Regions from separate parts of the Homo sapiens genome. Here region 1 is linked to region 2. Evidence: fine-mapped expression QTL. Tissue or cell type: whole blood. Region 2 holds a variant in brackets; the other region holds the start of a gene. All regions are shown on one strand. Distances are from middle to middle.

What was found. PIP is the estimated chance that this variant, and not a neighbour inherited with it, causes the effect.
Region 1: GNA15 starts here. The variant in region 2 is fine-mapped to the expression of GNA15 in whole blood (INTERVAL, PIP above 0.99).

Annotation. Positions count from the first base shown.
Region 1 is chr19:3,131,187-3,140,209 of GRCh38, reverse strand. It overlaps GNA15 (G protein subunit alpha 15), which reads right to left and starts at 4,177. Exons shown (of 7, transcript NM_002068.4): 1 at 3,615-4,177. The coding sequence starts at 3,759. It also overlaps the pseudogene RPL35P10.
Region 2 is chr19:3,151,635-3,161,805 of GRCh38, reverse strand. It overlaps GNA15 (G protein subunit alpha 15), which reads right to left. Exons shown (of 7, transcript NM_002068.4): 4 at 9,971-10,099; 5 at 5,854-5,983; 6 at 3,925-4,078. GNA15-DT (GNA15 divergent transcript) reads left to right here and starts at 6,631. Exons shown (of 4, transcript NR_110670.1): 1 at 6,631-6,788. RefSeq lists enhancers at 6,311-6,400, 6,441-6,770, 6,058-7,015. The variant G/T (reference allele first, on the strand shown) is at 5,299.

The DNA.
Region 1 (9,023 bases), 21 kb after region 2:
AATGATCAAAACCCACACAAGAAGAAGTAGATAGCCTAAGTAGCCCTATTTATTTAAAATAATAAGACATATCGATATGATACGTCATAATGTGACATAATATGACACATTAATATGTCAAATATAGATAGATAGATAGATAGATAGATAGATAGATAGATAGATTTTTTTTTTTTGAGATGGAGTTTCACTCTTATTGCCTAGGCTGGAGTTCAGTGGTGTGATCTTGGCTCACTGCAACCTCTGCCTCCAAGTTAGAGCAATTCTCCTGCCTCACCCTCCCAAGTAGCTGGGACTACAGGTGCGCACCACCACGCCTGGCTAATTTTTGTATTTTTAGTAGAGATGGGGTTTCACCACATTAGCCAGGATGGTCTCCATCTCCTGACCTCGTGATCCACCCTCCTCGGCCCCCCAAAGTGCTGTGATTGCAGGCGTGAGCCACCGCACCCAGCCCTGATTTTTTATATTTTTAGTAGAGACGGGGTTTCATCGTGTTAGCCAGGATGTTCTCAACCTCCTGACCTCATGATCTGCCCACCTCGGCCTCCCAAAGTGCTGGGATTACAGGCATGAGCCACTGCACCCGGCATTTTTTTTTTTTTTTTTTTGAGACAGAGTCAGCTTTGCTCTGTCACCCAGGCTGGAGTGCAGTGGCATGATCATAGCTCACTGCAGCCTCAACCTCCCAGGCTCAAGTGATCCTCTCACCTCAGCCTCCCAAGTAGTTGGAACTACAGTTGCGCACCACCATGCCTGGCTAATTATTTTATTTATTTATTTTTTTTAGAGACTGGGTCTTGCTAAGTTGCCCAGGCTGGTCTGAAACTCCTAAGCTCAAGCAATCCTCCCACCTAGGCCTCCCAAAGTGCTAAGATTACAGGAATGAACCACTATGCCCTGCTGAGATATTCTTTTATCTCGTTCAGTAAGAGGGATCAAGGCTAGAGTTGAAAGGGCCCTTGACTGGGTGCAGTGGCTCACGCCTGTAATCCCCACACTTTGGGAGGCCAAGGTGGTAGGATCACCTGAGGTCAGGGGTTCGAGACCAGCCTGGCCAACATGGTGAAACCCCATCTCTACTAAAAATACAAAAATTAGCCAGGTGTGGTAGTGCGCACCAGTAGTCCCAGCTGCTCAGGAGACTGAGGCAGGAGAATCACTTGAACCCAGGAGGCGGAGGTTGCAGTGAGCTGAGATCTCACCACTGCACTCCAACCTGGGGGACAGAGCAAGACTCAATCTAAAAAAAAAGAAAAAAAAAAAAAAAGAGGCTGGGCGCGGTGGCTCACGCCTGTAATCCCAACACTTCGGGAGGCCAAGGCGGGTTGATCACCAGGTCAGGAGTTCGAGACCAGCCTGGCCAACATGGTGGAACCCCATCTCTACTAAAAATACAAAAAAAAAAAAAATTAACTGGGCGTGGTGGCGCGTGCCTATAATCCCAGCTACTCAAGAGGCTGAGACAGGAGAATTGCTTGAACCCGGGAGGCGGAGGTTGCAGTGAGTTGAGATCGCACCACTGCACCCCAGCCTGGGTGACAGAGCAAGACTCCGTCTCAAAAAAATAAAAATAAAAATAAGAAAAGAAAAAAGAAAGAAAGGGCCCCCAGTGAAGGTGCAGTTCCTGGGGGTCCCCACCATCCCACTCGATGTTCTCTCTCTTTCCTCTCGGGCGGCCTCTTCCCACTGAACGAGGAAAGGACGATAGCAACCATCACGGGATGATCAAGCTCTTTGCCCGGGGCAGACAAACGCGAGTCCAGAAGACTTGAGACCTTCTCCAGCCCCCAACCCAGAGCTCGGGGATCCCAGAAGACCCTCCCAGGCTAGCATCCCGGGCTTAGGCCAACGGGGCCATAATCAGGGAAAGGTAATTGGGGAAACAAGCTACGGGAATGAGAAGACCCCGAGGTTTCAGAGATCAGAATTTTTTTTTTTTTGAGACGGAGTTTTGTTCTTGTTGCCCAGGCTGGGGTGCAATAGTGCAATCCTGGCTCACTGCAGCCTCCACCTCCTGGTTTCAAGCGATTCTCCTGCCTCAGCCTCCCCAGTAGCTGGGATTACAGGCACATGCCACCACACCCGGCTAATTTTTTTGTATTTTGAGTAGAGACGGGGTTTCGCCACGTTGACCAGGCTGATTTCGAACTCCTGGCCTCAAGTGATCTGCCCGCCTTGGCGTCCCAAAGTGCTGGGATTACAGGCATGATTTATTTATTTATTTTATTTATATTTATTTATTTATTGACAATGAGTCTTGCTCTGTCATCCAGGCTGGAGTGCAGTGGCCCGATCTCAGCTCACTGCAACCTCTGCCTCCTGGGTTCAAGCGATTCTCATGCCTCAGCCTCCCGAGTAGCTGGGATTATAGCTGTGTGCCACCATGCCCAGCTAATTTTTGGTTTTGTTTGTTTGTTTATTTGTTTGAGATGGCGTCTCACTCTGTCGCCAGTCTGGAGTGCAGTGGCATGATCTCAGCTCACTGCAGTCTCCACCTCCTGGTTTCATGCAATTCCCCTGCCTCAGCCTCCCGAGTAGCAGGGACTACAGGCACGCACCACCACATCTGGCTAATTTTTGGTATTTTGGTAGAGATGGGGTTTCACCGTGTTGGTCAGGCTGGTCTCGATCTCCCGACCTTGTGATCCACCCACCTCGGCCTCCCAAAGTGCTGGGATTACAGGCATGAGCCACCATGCCTGGCAAATTTTTGGTATTTTAGTAGAGACGGGGCTTCACCATGTTGGCCTGGCTGTGTCTTGAACTCCTGACCTCAAGTGATCCCACCCGCCTGGGCCTCCCAAAGTGCTGAAATCACAGGCTTGAGCCACTGCACCCAGCCAGAGTTCAGAATCTTGAACCGTTACTGACGTCGACTCCCCCATCTGAAGCCTCCGCATGGAAGCCATCACCCTGTTTTGTTTTCTCCTAGATAATTCTTGTTGCCAGAATTATTTTATCTGCTTATGAGTTTACAGACTAAATGTCTTGGCTCCTTCACAGGAAATGAGATCCAGGAAGACAGAAATATCTTCCCCTGTTTGGCTGCCTCGTTCCTGGGAGCTACCCAATAAATCTTAAATGAATGAATAATGAATGAATGAACCAATGAACCAATCAATCCATCCTTTCTAGCCCCCAAAGGAGCCCTAGACAAGCCCTCTCCAGCCATGGCAGGGAGGTAAAGGCGAGAGGGAGCGTCCTGGTGAAGGAGAGGCTGGAGCCGGCCCCTCCCTTACGGGTGGGCTGGCCAGAACGGGTTGCACACCTGAGCTCATCATTCCCTCGCCATGACACAGACAGGTAGGGCGTGCTGGGCCTGCCCGGCAGGGGCCCGGTAGAGCCACGTCTGCTATTGTATATGCCCCACACAGTGGACAGGCCTGGGCACCTGGCCGCTGGTCGCACGTTGGACAAGGAACTTGGCTTCTCTGAACCTCAGTCTTTCTCATCTGGAAAATGGGTTCCAGGCTCCCCATTCCCTGGGAGGAGGCGACGGCTCCACGATGCCAATGTCTGACCTAGCCTGATCCGCCTCCTTGCCCCGACACCCCTGCCGGCTGGCCACCGCCCACTGCCCACCACCCACCGCCCACCGACCCTGGACTCACCCAAAAGCAGCAGCTTCAGCTCCCCGCGGTCCTGCTTCTTCTGCTCCAAGAGGATCCTGTTGATCTCCTGGTCCACCCGGGCGGCGGCCTTCTCATCCTCCGTCAGGCACCAGGGGCAGCAGCGCCAGGTCAGCGAGCGGGCCATGGTGCGGTGGCCTCAGTCGGCACCGGGTGGCATCGCCCCCGGGCCCCTGCTGGCCAGGGCAACCCCCAGCCCAGCCGGCCCTGGAGAGGGCTCCGGGCAACCGGGTGCGCAGGGAGGCTGCCTTTTCCTTGGGGGTCACCCCCCAGGGACCTAGACTTCCTTGCCTGAAACACCCAGGAAGCCCGGCTCGGCGGTGGCAAGGCTTGAGTGCTGGGAACAGGGTGGGGACGGGAGGAGGTGGGGAGGCCAGGGCTCCCCGCCCACCTCCAGACCTGCTCAGACCCGGCCCGACAGGTTGACGGTGAAGGGTGCCAGGAGAGGGTGAGGTGGGGGCCCCAGGGAGGGCGGGGCGGTGGCGGGAAAACCCCCACCGCAGACTGGGTCCTGTGTGACCAGCAGGGCCCTTCTTCCTCCTTCTGGAGAAGGGGCGGATTCTCCTCAGGCTTCACCCGGAGCTGTCCCCCTCCTCGGAGCCAATCAGGAACCGTCAGACCCGTGCTACTGCTGATACATTATATATATATCATATATATATGTGTGTGTATATATATATATGTGTATATATATATATATATATATATATATATATATATATATATATATATATTTTTTTTTTTTTTTTTGAGACAGAGTTTCACTCTTATTGCCCAGGCTGGAGTGCAGTGGCAGGATCTTGACTCTGCAACATCTGCCTCCCAGGTTCAAGCAATTCTCCTGCCTCAGCCTCTCGAGTAGCTGGGATTACAGGCATCCACCACCACGCCGGGCTAACTTTGGATTTTTAGTAGAGAAAGGGTTCCACCACGTTGGCCAGGCTGGTCTCAAACTCCTGACCTCAGGTGATCCACCCGCCTCGGCCTCCCAAAGTGCTGGGATTGCAGGCATAAACCACCACGCTCGGCCCTTCTGATATATTTTTAAGAAACAGCTCAGGCCAGGTGTCATGGACTGTTTCCAGCGACTCTGCCCTGACCTCAGGTGATCCACCCTGCAGAGGTGGGCAGCTTGCCTGAGGTCAGGAGTTCGAAACCAGCCTGGCCAACATGGCGAAACCCTGTCTCTACTAAAGATACAAAAATTAGCCGGGTTTTGGCTCACATTAGCTGGTTTTACACTCACATCACCCTGTATAGTTACTACTGTCATCCCTGTTTGACTGATGAGGAGGTTGAGGCATAGAGCAGGGGAGTGACCGGTGGGGCTGGCACAAGGCAGAGCCGGGAGCCTATCCCTCACCTGCGGGGCCCCAGAGTCTAGACGCCTACCAGGCAGATTCCAGGCAGGGCCATCCCTTCATTGTGCGTGCATTCATGGAGCGCCAACTGTGTGCCAGGCACGGTAGCCAAGAGACACAGATCCCAGACCTCCTTACCTAAGGTTCTAGTTAAAGAACAGATAATAAAATAAATTTTAGGCTGGGCCTGGTGGCTCACGCATGTAATCCCTATACTTTGGGAGGCCAAGGCGGGCAGATCACAAAGTCAAGAAATCGAGACCAGCCTGGCCAACACGGCGAAACCCCGTCTCTACTAAAAATACAAAAATTAGCCGGGCGTGGTGGTGCACGCCTGTAGTCCCACCTACTTGGGAGGCTGAGGCAAGAGAATCGCTTGAACCCGGGAGGCAGAGGTGGCAGTGAGCTGAGATCGTGCCACTGCACTCCAGCCTGGCGACGAAGTGAGACTCCATCTCAAAAAAAATAAAAAATAAAAGAATAAAAAATTTGGCCAGGTGAGTGCGGGAGCTCACATCTGTAATCAAAGTACTTTGGGAGGCCGAGGCAGGAGGATCACTTGAAGTCAGGAGTTTGAGACCAGCCTGGCCAACATGGAGAAACTCCATCTCTACTAATACAAAAATTAGTTGGGCATGTTGGCACGCACCAGTAGTCCCAGCTACTTGGGAGGCTGAGGCAAGGGAATCACTTGAACCCCGAAGATGGAGGCTGCAGTGAGCCGAGATCATAACACTGCTCTCCAGCCTGGGCAACATAGTGAAACCCTGTCTCCAGAAACAAACAAAACAAAACTCTCCCTCTCTCTCTATGTATATATATACACACACACACATACATATATATACACATACATATATATACACAATATATAGACACACATACATATATGTATATACACATACATATATACACATACATATATATACACAATATATAGACACACATACATATATACACATACATATATACACACATAAAAGTATACATTTTAATATACATATATGTATATTATACATAAAAATATATATGTGTGTATATATATACACACACGTGTAAAATATATATATTTTTTAATACACCTGAGCCCGTTGGATGGTGAAAAATTCTGCCAGAAAAATTAAGCAGAGATGTTGTTGGGGAAGGTTCAAGGTCATTGCTCTAAATGGATCAACAAAGGTCGCACAGACAAGTGATATTCAGGATCAGAAGTCAGACAGGCAGATCGGGTGTAAGAGGGACTTTGGGAGTGGACCTCACTGGTCAAGGAGATCTTCCCAATGAGTGCCATGAGGCCGCCCTGACCTGATCCCTCTGGGACTTCAGGGCCCTAGGGGTGGGCTGGTGGCTGGCAGCTTGGTAGAAACGTTGCTGCTTCCTAGGTACTCAGAGCCAGAGTGTTTGGGTGAAGATTCCCCACCCCCATTGACAGGCTGTAGAAAATTCTAGAAAGTTCTGGATCAAAACTCTCCTCCCCAAGAGATACACGTAATTCTTGTACTTCGGGGGCCTCTGGTCCCTTTACAGATAGGGCAAGGCACAGAGAGGGCGAATTACGTGCCCAGGGCCACACAGCCATTGGCAGCCACCGTCCCCACCTCCTCCCAGACACCAGGGCTCGGTGACAGCCGTTGACGCAGCTTCACCAGCTCAGCACAAACGTGTGGTTTTCTCCACTGTTGATTCATAACGAATGACAGATGGGAAGTACGATAGGGGCCCCCATCTGGTCACTGGGGCTGGCAGGTGCCATCTGCCCACCCAGCCACCCACCTTCCCGCCCCCAACCGGATAGCAGCAACGAGGGGCAGTCCCACCCAGGACAGGCAAAGAAACGCAGAAATAGGTCATGGCCGTGCAGATCTTCCAGGATGGTTGAAACAGAAATGACCAGCAAAACTGGGAGACGAGGCTGAGCCACAGGCCCCACAGGGTGAGCCCAGGGGGCCACTCTCCTAGCATCTCCCTGCGGCATTTTTGGACAGGATACCAGCACCCGCCATCTTCACAGCCTGGACCAGGGTGGCAGACCCTCTGTGGCTCCCGCTGGCTTCAGAATTAATGAGCCGGCTCCCTGGATCCAGGGCCCAGGCTCTGCCCACTTCTCCAGCTGCTGAACAAACCTCCCTTGCGGTTCCCTAAACGGGCTGAGCTACTTCCTTGCCACATGCTGAGCATTTGTCGTGTATTATTAGCTCAGCTGGGAACACCAGGGTGAGCTTGTGTGTGTAGAAAATATTTCTTTCAGAAAACACATAAAACCTGAATGTATTACCTAATAAATTGTTGTGAAGCCGGTATCCACAGAATCCACTGAGGCCAAGACTAAGGACATTTTCAGGCCGGGCGCGGTGTCTCACGCCTGTCATCCCAGCACTTTGGGAGGCCAAGGTGGGCAGATCACCTGAGGTCAGGAGTTCAAGACCAGCCTGGACAACATGGTGAAACCCCGTCTCTACTAAAAATAGAAAAGTTAGCCAGGTGTGATGGTGCACACCTGTAATCCCAGCTACTCGGGAGGCCGGGGGAGGAGTATTGCTTGAGCCTGGGAGGTGGAGGTTGCAGTGAGCTGAGATCGTGCCACTGCACTCCAGCCTGGGTGACAAGCAAGACTCTGTCTCAAAAAAAAAAAAAAAAAGACCTTAGCCCCACAAAGACCCCTAGTGTTTTCCTCATAGTAATCTCTACCTTCCCAGCAGTAACTATCATTCTGACTTCTGTGGTATTAATATTTATTTCCGGGTTTGGGGGGTATTTTTTGCTAATAAGATCTATTTCAGCTGGGCATGTTGGCTCATGCCTATAATCTCAGCACTTTGGGAGGCTGAAGTGGGAGGATTGCTTGACCCCAGGAGTTCAAGACCAGCCTGGGCAACATAGTGAGACTCTATCTCTTTTTTTCTTTTTTCTTTCTTTCTTTCTTTTTTTTTTTTTTTTTTTTTTTTGAGACGGTGTTTTGTTATTGTTGCCCAGGCTGGAGTGCAATGGCTCGGTCTCAGCTCACTGCAACCTCCACCTTCCCAGTGAGACCCCATTTCTAAAAAATAAAATAAAATAAATTAGCCGGGGGTGGTGGCTCATGCCTGTGGTCCCAGGTACTCCAGAGGCTAAGGTGGGAGGATTGCTTAGGCCAGAGAGGTTGAGGCTGCAGTGAGCTATGATTGACCCACTGCACTCCAGCCTGGGTTGACAGAGCAAGGGTCTGTCCCCCCCAAAAAAAGATCTTGTTTTTAATTGTCTAAATTTATGTAGCATTGTATTTACTTTCTTTGGTGTATGGTTCTATGAGTTTATTTATTTATTTATTTATTTATTTATTTATTGAGACGGAGTCTGTCTCTGTCACCCAGGCTGGAGTGCAGTGGCACGATCTCGGCTCACTGCAAGCTGAGCCTCCCGGGTTCACGCCATTCTGCTGCCTCAGCCTCCCGAATAGCTGGGACTACAGGTGCCCACCACCACGCCGGGCTAATTTTTTTTGTATTTTAGTAGAGACGGGGTTTCACCATGTTGTCCAGACTGGTCTCGATCTCCTGACGTCGTGATCCGCCCGCCTCGGCCTCCCAAAGTGCTGGGATTACAGGCGTGAGCCACCGCGCCCGGCCTGGTTTCTATGAGTTTTAACAGCTGTAGAGATTCGTGTAAATTACTGCTATAAACAGGATACAGAATGTAGTTCCATCACCGGAACAACTCCCTCCTGACCGTGGATTGGCTCTTTGTGGCTGTGTTTTTTGTTTGTTTGTTTGTTTTGGTGTTTTTTTTTTTGTTTTTTTTTTTCTCAGCCAGCTGTGCTTTATTGACAACGCGCCACTCGGGCCTTGACCGCGCACTTCCGCACTGGGGACAGCTGCTCGCTCTGCTGCTGCTTCTTGATCGTCAGGTTCTCCTCGTGCTTGCTGAGCGGGCGGCGCACGGCGCGTGTCTTCTTAGGCCGCAGGTGCAGGTGCTTGTACTTCTTGCCCTTGTAGAATTTCCCGAGGTTTTCTTTCTGAGTCTGGTTAATAACCGTGAGAACACGGGCAATGGA
Region 2 (10,171 bases):
GCGCCTCAGCCTCCCAAAGTGTGGTTTCTTATTATTATCACAAATATTATTTAGCACAGTGGAGGGTAGGGCTGGGAGTCAGCAAAGAGTGCACCAGTCACTTGTGCTGGGAGACAAGGATGAGTCATGGGTGGTTCCCTTTGACCTGAATGAAAAAAATATCTACCTTATCCTGTTCCCAAATTCTCTAAACTATGAGCTGATTCCCAGGGCTGCTTGGCAAGGAAGAGGGGCTATCCAGGCCACCATCCTGGAACAACTTGACGTCTATCTCCCAGACCCTGAATCTTGTGGGTATAATTGGCTAAAATTGGCCTCATGGGCTCTGAGACATGACAAGACCAGGGATCAAAACCTGGTGACTTCACCAAAGTTTATGTTTACTGATTGTGGACCTGGTGTCAAGCATGTACTAAGGACTCATCTACTATGGTTGCTTGTATATTGAGGTGAACAGTGTCCCCCAAAATTCATGTCCACCTGGAACTTCAGAATATGACTTTTAGAAATCGGATATTTGCAGATGTAATTAGTTAAGTTAAATTAGGTCATGGCCAGGCATGAGGGCTCACGCCTGTAATCCTAGCACTTTGGAAGGCCAAGGCAGGTGGATGACAGATGTGTGGTTGGGCCCAGGAGTTCCAGATCAGCCTGGGCAACATGGCGAAACCCTGTCTCTACAGAAATATACAAAAATTACCCAGGTGTGGTGGTGTGCGCCTGTAGTCCCAGCAACTCAAGAGGCTGAGGTGGGAGGATCACCTGTGCCCAGGAGGTTGAGGCTGCAGTGAACTGTGATCACACCACTGGACTCTAGCCTGGGCAACAGAGCAAGACCTTGTCTCAAAAAAAAAAAAAAAAAAAAAAAGTGGTCATACCAAAGTATGGGCCCTAAATCCAATGACTGGTGGCCTTATAACAACAGGAGAGGACACATAAAGGCATGGTGAGAAGACAGCCATGTGAACATGGAGGCAGAGATTGCAGTGATATGTCTACAAGCTAAGGATTGTAGGCCACCACCAGAAGCTGAGAGAGAAGCATGGAATGGATTTTCCCTTAGAGCCTCCAAAAGGAACCAACCTTGCCAATACCTTAACTTTGGACTTCTGTTGTTTCCTGTTGTTTTAAGCCACCCAGTTTGTGGTACTTTGTTACGGCATCCCCAGGACATGAAGGCAAGTTATCTCCAAGATGGCTGCCGTCACTTCCTTCCCTCCCTGTATGCATGTGTCATGCTGCCTTCAAGAGATGGAGTCTCTTTCTTTTGAATCCGGGCTGATATGAGTGATGTGCTTGACAAATAGAATGTGGCAGAGTAACGTCTGACATTTCTGAGGCTATCATGAGAAGCAGCTTCCACCTGGGCTGAAGTCTGTCTACCCTGAGGCAGCCATATTGTGAGTAAGCTCAAACCATGTGAAGAGGCTGTGGATCATGAGGCCCCAGATGGAGACAGAGAGAACAGGGGAGGTGGAAAAGGAGAGACAGACTAGGAGAAAGGGGAGGAGAGAGAGATGAGATGGGAGAGGGAGGCAGGGAGAGACACAGAGAGAGAGGCCAAGAGTGCCAAGAGCACCAAGGCACCAGACATATGGGGGAAGAAGCCATCTTGGAAGTTTATCTCCAATCCCATAGAGCCCAGCTGATGTCACATGGATCAGAGATGAACTTACCCAGCTCAACCTTTCCCAAATTCCTGACCCACAAAATCATAAGCAAAGGAAAATGACCAGTTTAAGTCACTAAGTTTGGGGATGGTTTGTTACTCGGCAGTAGCTAAGCAGGACACCCGCCACCACACTTTATCCTCACAGTGGTGTTCTGGGGAAAGTGCTAGTGAATATGTACCTTCCCCACGTTGGTCCCTGGATTAACCACAACTCTGCCTCCCCTTTGTAAAATATACTAAGTGGTGCCCAACACTAGATGGTGTTTCTCTGTAGTTGCCCTGTGGCCCTTTCACCCTCTGGATGGACTGAGAGTTTGTTCCCAAACCTGTTTTTGCCCATTGTACGTGTCTTGATTCATATGTAATTAAAAGAAACGTTATGCAAATCTGTAGCTACAAGTGCCGCATGAAAGAAGGTCATTGTATTACAAAACTAAGCTGTGTGCTTTGGAAACATTGTTCAAAGCTCTGCTTTAAAAATTAAAGAGAAAGGCCAGGTGTGGTGGCTCACGCCTGTAATCCCAGCACTTTGAGGCCGAGGCGGGTGGATCACCTGAGGTCGGGAGTTCAAGTCCAGCCTGACCAACATGGAGAAACCCCGTCTCTACTAAAAACACAAAATTAGCCGGGGTGGTGGCTCATGCCTGCAATCCCAGCTACTCGGGAGGCTGAGGCAGGAGAATCCCTTGAACCCGGGAGGCGGAGGTTGCGGTGAGCCGAGATTGTGCCATTGCACTCCAGCCTGGGCAAAAAGAGCAAAACTCCATCTCAAAAAAAAAAAAAAAAAGAAAAGAAATTAAAGAAAAAATAGACTGGGCACGATGGCTCACGCCTGTAATCCCAGCACTTTGGGAGGCCGAGACAGGTGGATCATGAGGTCAGGAGATTGAGACCAACCTGGGTAACATGATGAAACCCCATCTCGACCAAAAATACAAAAAACTAGCCAGACGTTCTGGCGGGCACCTGTAATCCCAGCTACTCGGGAGGCTGAGGCAGCAGAATGGTGTGAACCCAGGAGGCAGAGCTTGCAGTGAGCTGAGATTGCGCCACTGCACTCCAGCCTGGGCAGCAGAGCGAGACTCCGTCTCAAAAAACAAACAAAAAAAAATTAAAGAAAAAATGGATTAAAGAAAAAGAAATTGCTATCCAATTAGGGATAGATGAGATCACTATGAAAGATTAGAAAAAGAAACGTTATGGCCAGATGCGGTGGCTCACGCCCGTAATCCCAGCACTTTGGGAGGCTGAGGTAGGTGGATCACTTGAGGTCAGTTCGAGACCAGCCTGACCAACATGGTGAAACCCCATCTCTACTAAAAATAGGACAGGAAACTACTAAAAATTAGCCAGGCTTGGTGGCACGTGCCTGTAATCACAGCTACTTGGGAGGCTAAGGCAGGAGAATCACTTGAACCGGGGAGTTGGAGGTTGCCATGAGCCAAGATCGCACCACTGTACTCCAGCCTGGGTGACAGAGTGAGACTCTGTCTCAAAAAGAAAAAATAGAAGAAAGAAAGAAAAGAAAAAGAATCATTCTTAAAACCTAGGCAGATTCTGGAAATAGTAGACAATCTTTCCAGAAGTGCTTTACAACAGTGACCTCTACATAGCAAACCCATGCTTGAAGGATCTTGGCTCAAACCCCAAATGTTGGCCAACAAGCATAAAATAAAATGTTTGGCCGGGCATGGTGGCTCCTGTCTATAATCCTAGCACTTTGGGAGGCTGAGGCGGGTGGATCAGGAGGTCAAGTGATCGAGACTATCCTGGTCAACATGGTGAAATCCCGTCTTTTCGTACTAAAAACACAAAAATTAGCTGGGCGTGGTGGCGCGCACCTGTAGTTCCAGCTACTAGGGAGGCTGAGGTAGGAGAATCGCTTGAACTCTGGAGGGAAAGGTTGCAGTGAGCCGAGATCACGCCACTGCACTCCAGCCTGGTGACAGAGCAAGACTCTGTCTCAAAAATAAATAAATAAATAAAATGTTTAAGGTGTACGTGATATGCTACGTGTTTTTAGAATTCCTCACTTTACTCAGTTCCAAGGGCCTCTGCTATTTTATTCCATTCCACAGAAGGGAAAACAGATTCAATGAGGTCGGGCAGTGGATGGAGCTGAGTCTAGAACGCGGGTCTGATCCTATGTGAAAGTTCCGGTGACTCCAGGCTGAAGTAGAGTCTGGATTAGCATCTCTCTTCGGAGCTGCTTTTGGGAGTTGAAGGGTATAGAAAGTTCTAGAATTACTTACCCTGGAAACTGGGGAAATAGGTAGCCAGGTGGGAGGTGGGGATTTTCTCCTCCAGGATGTCGGTTTTGTTGAGAAAGAGGATGACGGATGTGCTTTTGAACCAGGGTAGTTCCAGGATAGTCCCAAACAATGCGAGGCTCTCCTTCATGCGGTTCTGTGTTGGGGGCAGAAGCAGGTTAGTGCTTCAACCAGCCAGGTGGGACAGGAAACCCTCCCATCGCGGAGACGGGGCTGTTGGCTCCAGGGGCATGGGCTCACCCCTATCTGCCTGGCTGGGGCTGAGGCGGGTGTGCCCGTGTTTCCATATGGACAGCTGCCTGGGTGTGCCTGACATGGTTTTGTGCCTGTGCTGGTTGGAAGTGTGTCCTCCCGAAATTCATGTCCCCCCAGAGCTTCAGAGTGTGACCTTATCTGGAGAGAGATTCTTGAACTCCTGGCCTCCCAGCGTGCTGGGGTTATAGGCATGAACCACTGCACCTGGCCTGGAGATAGGGTCTTTGAAGAGGTCGTTAAGGTGAGGCAATACTAGAATACGGTGGCCCTCAAGTCCGTGACTGCTGTCCTCATAAGAAGAGGGAGACCTGGCCGGGCGCGGCAGCTCACGGCTGTAATCCTAGCACTTTGGGAGGCCAAGGCGGGCAGATCACCTGAGGCCAGGAGTTGGAGACCAGCCTGGCTAACATGGTGAAACCCCGTTTCTACTAAAAATACAAAAAATTAGCCGGGCATGATGGCAGGTGCCTGTAAACCCAGCTACTCGGGAGGCTGAGGCAGGAAAATCGCTTGAACCCGGGAGGCGGAGGTTGCAGTGAGCTGAGATCGCGCCACTGCACTCTAACCTGGGCGACAAAAGCGAGACTCCATCTCAAAAAAAAAAGTACAATAAGGTCTCAAATGCCTTGTGTTATGGGGTACATCATATTTCCCCAAAATTCATACGTTCAAGACCTAACCCCCTAGAACCTCAGTTTGTGACCTTCTTTGGAAACAGGGCCATCACACGAGGAATTAACCCAGATGAGGTCGTACTGGAGTAGGGTGGGCCCTGATCCTAGACGACTGGTGTACTTATTAAAAGAGGCTATTGGCTGGGCACAGTGGCTCACGCCTGTAATCCCAGCACTTTGGGAGGCCGAGGCGGGCGGATCACGAGGTCAGGAGATTGAGACCATCCTGGCTAACATGGTGAAACCCCCTCTCTTCTAAGAATACAAAAAAAAAATTAGCCGAGCGTGGTGGCGGGTGCCTGTAATCCCACCTACTCCGGAGGCTGAGGCAGGAGAATGGTGTGAACCCGGGAGGCGGAGTTTCCAGTGAGCCGAGATCGCGCCACTGCACTCCAGCCTGTGCGTGTGCGTGCATGTGTGTGTGCAC[G/T]CATGTGTGTGCCTGTGTGCCTGTGTGTGCGTGTGTGTGCCTGTGTGTGCGTGTGCATGTGTGTACTGTGTGTGTGCATGTGTGTGTTCATGTGTGTGCGCATGTGTACATATGCGTGTATTGTGCACGTGAGTGCATGCAAGTGTGCATGTGTGTGGTGCATGTGTGTTCGTGTGCATGTGTTGTGCATGTGCACTGCGTGTGTACATGTGTCCCGTGTGTGCACGTGTGTATGTGCATGTATTATGCACGTGTCTGTGCGTGTTTGTGTGCATGCATTGTGTATGTGCGTGTGTGCACTGTAGTGTGTGTGTGTGTGTGTGTGTGTGTGTGTGTGTGTGTGTCTGGGGTCCTGACCAAACAAATGCTGTAGGTCTGTGTCTTGGGTTGCTGCAATCTGACCACAAAAGGCTGAAGGGTCAAGTTCATAGCCATGCTGGGCACACACAGGCCCGTTCAAGAGCAGGGATCCCTCCCTTTCTGCACCAGAGCTTCCTGCTCAGGTGAGGGTCCCTGGGCCAACAAGTGGGCAGGGCGAGGGAGGCGGTGGCGCACCTCCTGGTTGTTCTCCTCCAGGCACTGGTCGTATTCACTCAGTGAGGCCAGGTAGATGAGGGCGATCACGTTCTCGAAACAATGGATCCATTTCTTACGCTCTGACTTCTGGCCCCCGACGTCCACGATCCTACAGGGAACCGAGGTGCCCCCTTTCAGAGCTCAGGAGCCTGCTCCGTGACACCCCCAACCCCCATCACGTCTGGGATATGCCAAGATCCATAATAGCGACAGCAAGAATAGGTGCTAGCCTCTCGTGGATTTGCCATGTCATTCCCGCGAGGCAAGGATGAGTCTTACGCCCATTTTACAGATGAGAAGCCTGAGATCCAGGGAGGAGCGGGGACTTTCCCAAGCTTCTACTGTGCTGGGCTGCCTGCTTTCTACCCCCATATTAGAGGGGAGCAGGTTGGACAGATCTGAGATGTGCCCTGGTGCTGGCTGGGCGACCCGGCGGAGGAAATTGCCAAACATCTCCAAAACTCAGTTTTCCCATCTGTGCTATGGGGCTCCTGTGCTCTGGCTGGCCATGGGCATGTCCAGTGGCCACACAGATGGGAATGAGGGCTGTTCCCAGAGCACACGTCCTCCCCTCCATCTGTGACTCAGCCCCACGCACCGTAACAAAAGCCTGAACCCTGCCCCCACCTTCCTGTTCTCTCTCTTCTGAGAAATGTGGGTCGCTGATAACCATCTGTGCGTCATTTCCCTGGGGATGCAACCGTTACTCAGGAAGTCCCAGAACAGAGGCTTTGGACGGGCCCGGCCCAGGGCCTCAAGCAAGAAGGGACTTGCCCCATTGCACAGGAGGGGAAACCGGGACTGATGATGAAGCAGTTAGGCTGCAGCTGCTGGATGTGTCTCCTGATCCCTGAGACCCACTCCTCCCATGCATCCTCAGAGTCCCTCAAACCCCACATCCAGAGCCAGACAGGGTAAGCAGCCGTCGAGAGGGGGCTCTGGAGACTGAGACGGGAGTGGGATCAGCAACTGACCAGTTGGGAACTGTGGGCATCACCTCTCATCTCGGGTCTCAGTGTCCTCTGAGCCCTCACTCCATTCATTCGTCTCACTCCTGGGCCACACCTAAAAATCACTTCCTTGGCCCAGACTTCCCCATGATTTCCCAGCCTCTACCTTCACTCCTAAACTTTTATCCACCCACCCACCCCATTCATCGATTTATTCACTCATCCATCCACCCATCCACCCACCCACTCATCCATCCACCCATCCAGCCATTCACTCATCCATCCATCTATCCATCTACCCATCTATCCATCCATCCATCATCCATCCACCCACCCATCCATCCACCCATCCAGCCATTCACTCATCCATCCATCTATCCATCTACCCATCTATCCATCCATCCATCATCCATCCACCTGTCCACCCATTTACGAAATCCACCCACCGACCCACCCATCCATCTCTCCATTTACTCATCCATCCATCCATCCACCCATCTGTCCACCCATTACCCAGCTACCCATCCATCCATCTACCCATCTATCCACTCACTCATCCACCCATGTACCCATCCACCCACCCTCCCACCCATCCACTCATCCATTCATCCACTCACCCATCCACCCATTCATCCATTCATCCGTCACCCACCACCCATCTACCCATTCATTCATCCATCCATCCACTCATCCACCCATCCATCCACCCATTCATCCATCCATCCATCACCCACCACCCATCTACCCATTCATTCATCCATCCATCCACTCATCCACCCATCCATCCACCCATTCATCCATCCATCCATCCATCCATCCCACCCATCCATCCATCTATCCATCCACCCATCCATCTATTCATTCACTCATCCATCCATCTATCCGTCTATCCATCTACCCATCTATTCATCCATCCATCATCCACCTGCCTGTCCACCCATTTACTCAATCCACCCATCCATCCATCGCTTCATCTACTCATCTATCCATCCACCCATCTGTTCACCCATTATCCATCTACTCATACATCCATCTACCCATCTATCCACTCACTCGTCCACCCATCTACCCATCCACCCACCCACACCCCCATCCACTCATCCATTCATCCATCCATTCACCCACTCATCCATCCATCCTTCACTCACCCATTCACCCATTTATTCATTCATTCATCCATCACCTGCCACCCATCTACCCATTCATTCATCCATCCATCCACTCATCCACCCATCCATCCATGCATTCACCCACCCATTCATCCATCCATTCATCCATCCCACCCACCCATCCATCTATCCACTCATCCATCCATCCTTCACTCACCAATCCACCCACCCATCCATTCACCCATCACCCTTCCACCCATCTACCCATTAATTCATCCATCCACTCATTCACCCATCCATCCACCCATTCATCCACCCATCTATCCATCTATCCACTCATCCACCCACTCATCCATTCATGTATCACCCATCCACCCATCTAACCATCCATCCATCCATCCATCCACTCATCCCTCTTTCAATCCATCCATCTATCCATCCATTCATCCATCCACCCACTCATCCATCTATCCATTGATTCATCCACTCATCCATCCTGCCACTCCATCCATCCACTCATCTATCCCTCAACTTATCCATCCATCTATTCATCTATCCATCCACCCATTCATCCACCCATCCATTCCCTTCCATCTTTCCTTTTTTTTTTTTTTTAAAGATTCCCAGACCAAGTATCTCTCCCATAGAAGTCATCCTTGGGTACTAACACTACTATTGTGTCCCAGAGCTGGTTCCTTCTCGTGGGTTCTCGGTCTCGCTGACTTCAAGAATGAAGCCGCAGACCTTCGCAGTAAGTGTTACAGCTCTTAAAGGTGGTGTGGACCCAAAGAGTGAGCAGCAGCAAGATTTATTGTGAAGAGCGAAAGAACAAAGCTTCCACAGCGTGGAAGGGGACCCGAGCGGGTTGCCCCCATTCCATCTTTCCAACCATCCACCCACATTTACCAACTTCTACTCTGACCTTTAGCTATTCACTAAAGAAGCAGAAGAATCAAACTCAGCCCCTAACCTTGTGAGGCTCTCCATCTTGTAGAGGAGACCCACAGAAAACAGATAAATTATGAACCTTCCTAGTAAGGACTATTGAAGAGGCCAAAACAATAGGTTTGGGGGATTTAGGGAAAGGAAGGCCAAATAGGGGTAGGTCAAACACAATCGCTGTCTCTGGGCATGACTTTGCACCCCTGCTCAGCTCCCCGCCATCAGCCCATGGAAACAGATCTTGCTAAGGTCACCAGTGACCCTCTAACTGCCAATCCCAGAGTCATTCTTCTCACTGTATTCTTGACCTTTCCTTTCCTGACCTTTGACATTGGCCATTGCTCTGCTGGGTTAGGGTTAGGGTTAGGGTGCTGCACTGGCCATTCCCACCTCTGTCTGCCAGCTAAGGTGGAGTCCCCCTAGGCCCCTCAGACTCAACCTGTCCCAAAGGACTCCATCACCACCTTTTCATCCTCTAGCCCACCGGCTCCACTGTCTACCCCCATCACCTTGACAAAAAACTCAGGTGTCATTTTTGACTTCCTGTTCTAATTCCCACACTCATCCAGTCCTGCCCATTCCACATCAGAAACAACTCTTGCCCATCCCTTCCTTTCCATCCCCACGCCCGCTGTCCTGGCTCCTCCTTTTTCTGAGTTTCCTGACTTCCAGCCTCACACTCTAGTCCATCCCCCAGTGTTGATGACTACAGGGATCACCTCTGAGCTCCCCAGACCAGGCCTCCCCAGACCTGGTCCTGACTGTATAGTCTCTATTTCCTCCTCCCCAGCAGCCCCTTCAGGGTTAGGACTACTGAACTCCTATTCGTCTTTCAAAACCCCATTAATATTCCCTCCTCCAAGAAGATATTCCCTCCTGGATCTCTGATGCCTCAGCCTGGGCTCCTACAGGTCCCAGTCCTGACTACCTGGGGGCCTGGAGGTGTCTACATGGAGCTTTGCTTCCCCTAGCTTGGCAGCTCCTTGAAGGCTGGGCCTAAGAAACTCCTACTCATCCCTCAGGGCCCCAGCTCCTTTGCCCTTCCTACAGGAAGCCTTCCCTGCCCCCTAGGCTGGGCCTAGGTGGAGCGCTCACCGCAGGTTGGTTTTCTGCACGGAGAAGCAGTACTCGTTGATGCCAGTGGTGGGCATGCGGCTGCGGAGCACGTCCTGAGCTGTGGGGACGTAGCCCTCCTCGGTGATGCGCTCCAGGTGGGACAGGTAGCTGCAGAGCAAGGAGTCCTGAGGCCCAGCCTTGCAGCCAGCCTCCCTTTGCTTCCCAGGCCCTACGAAAGGC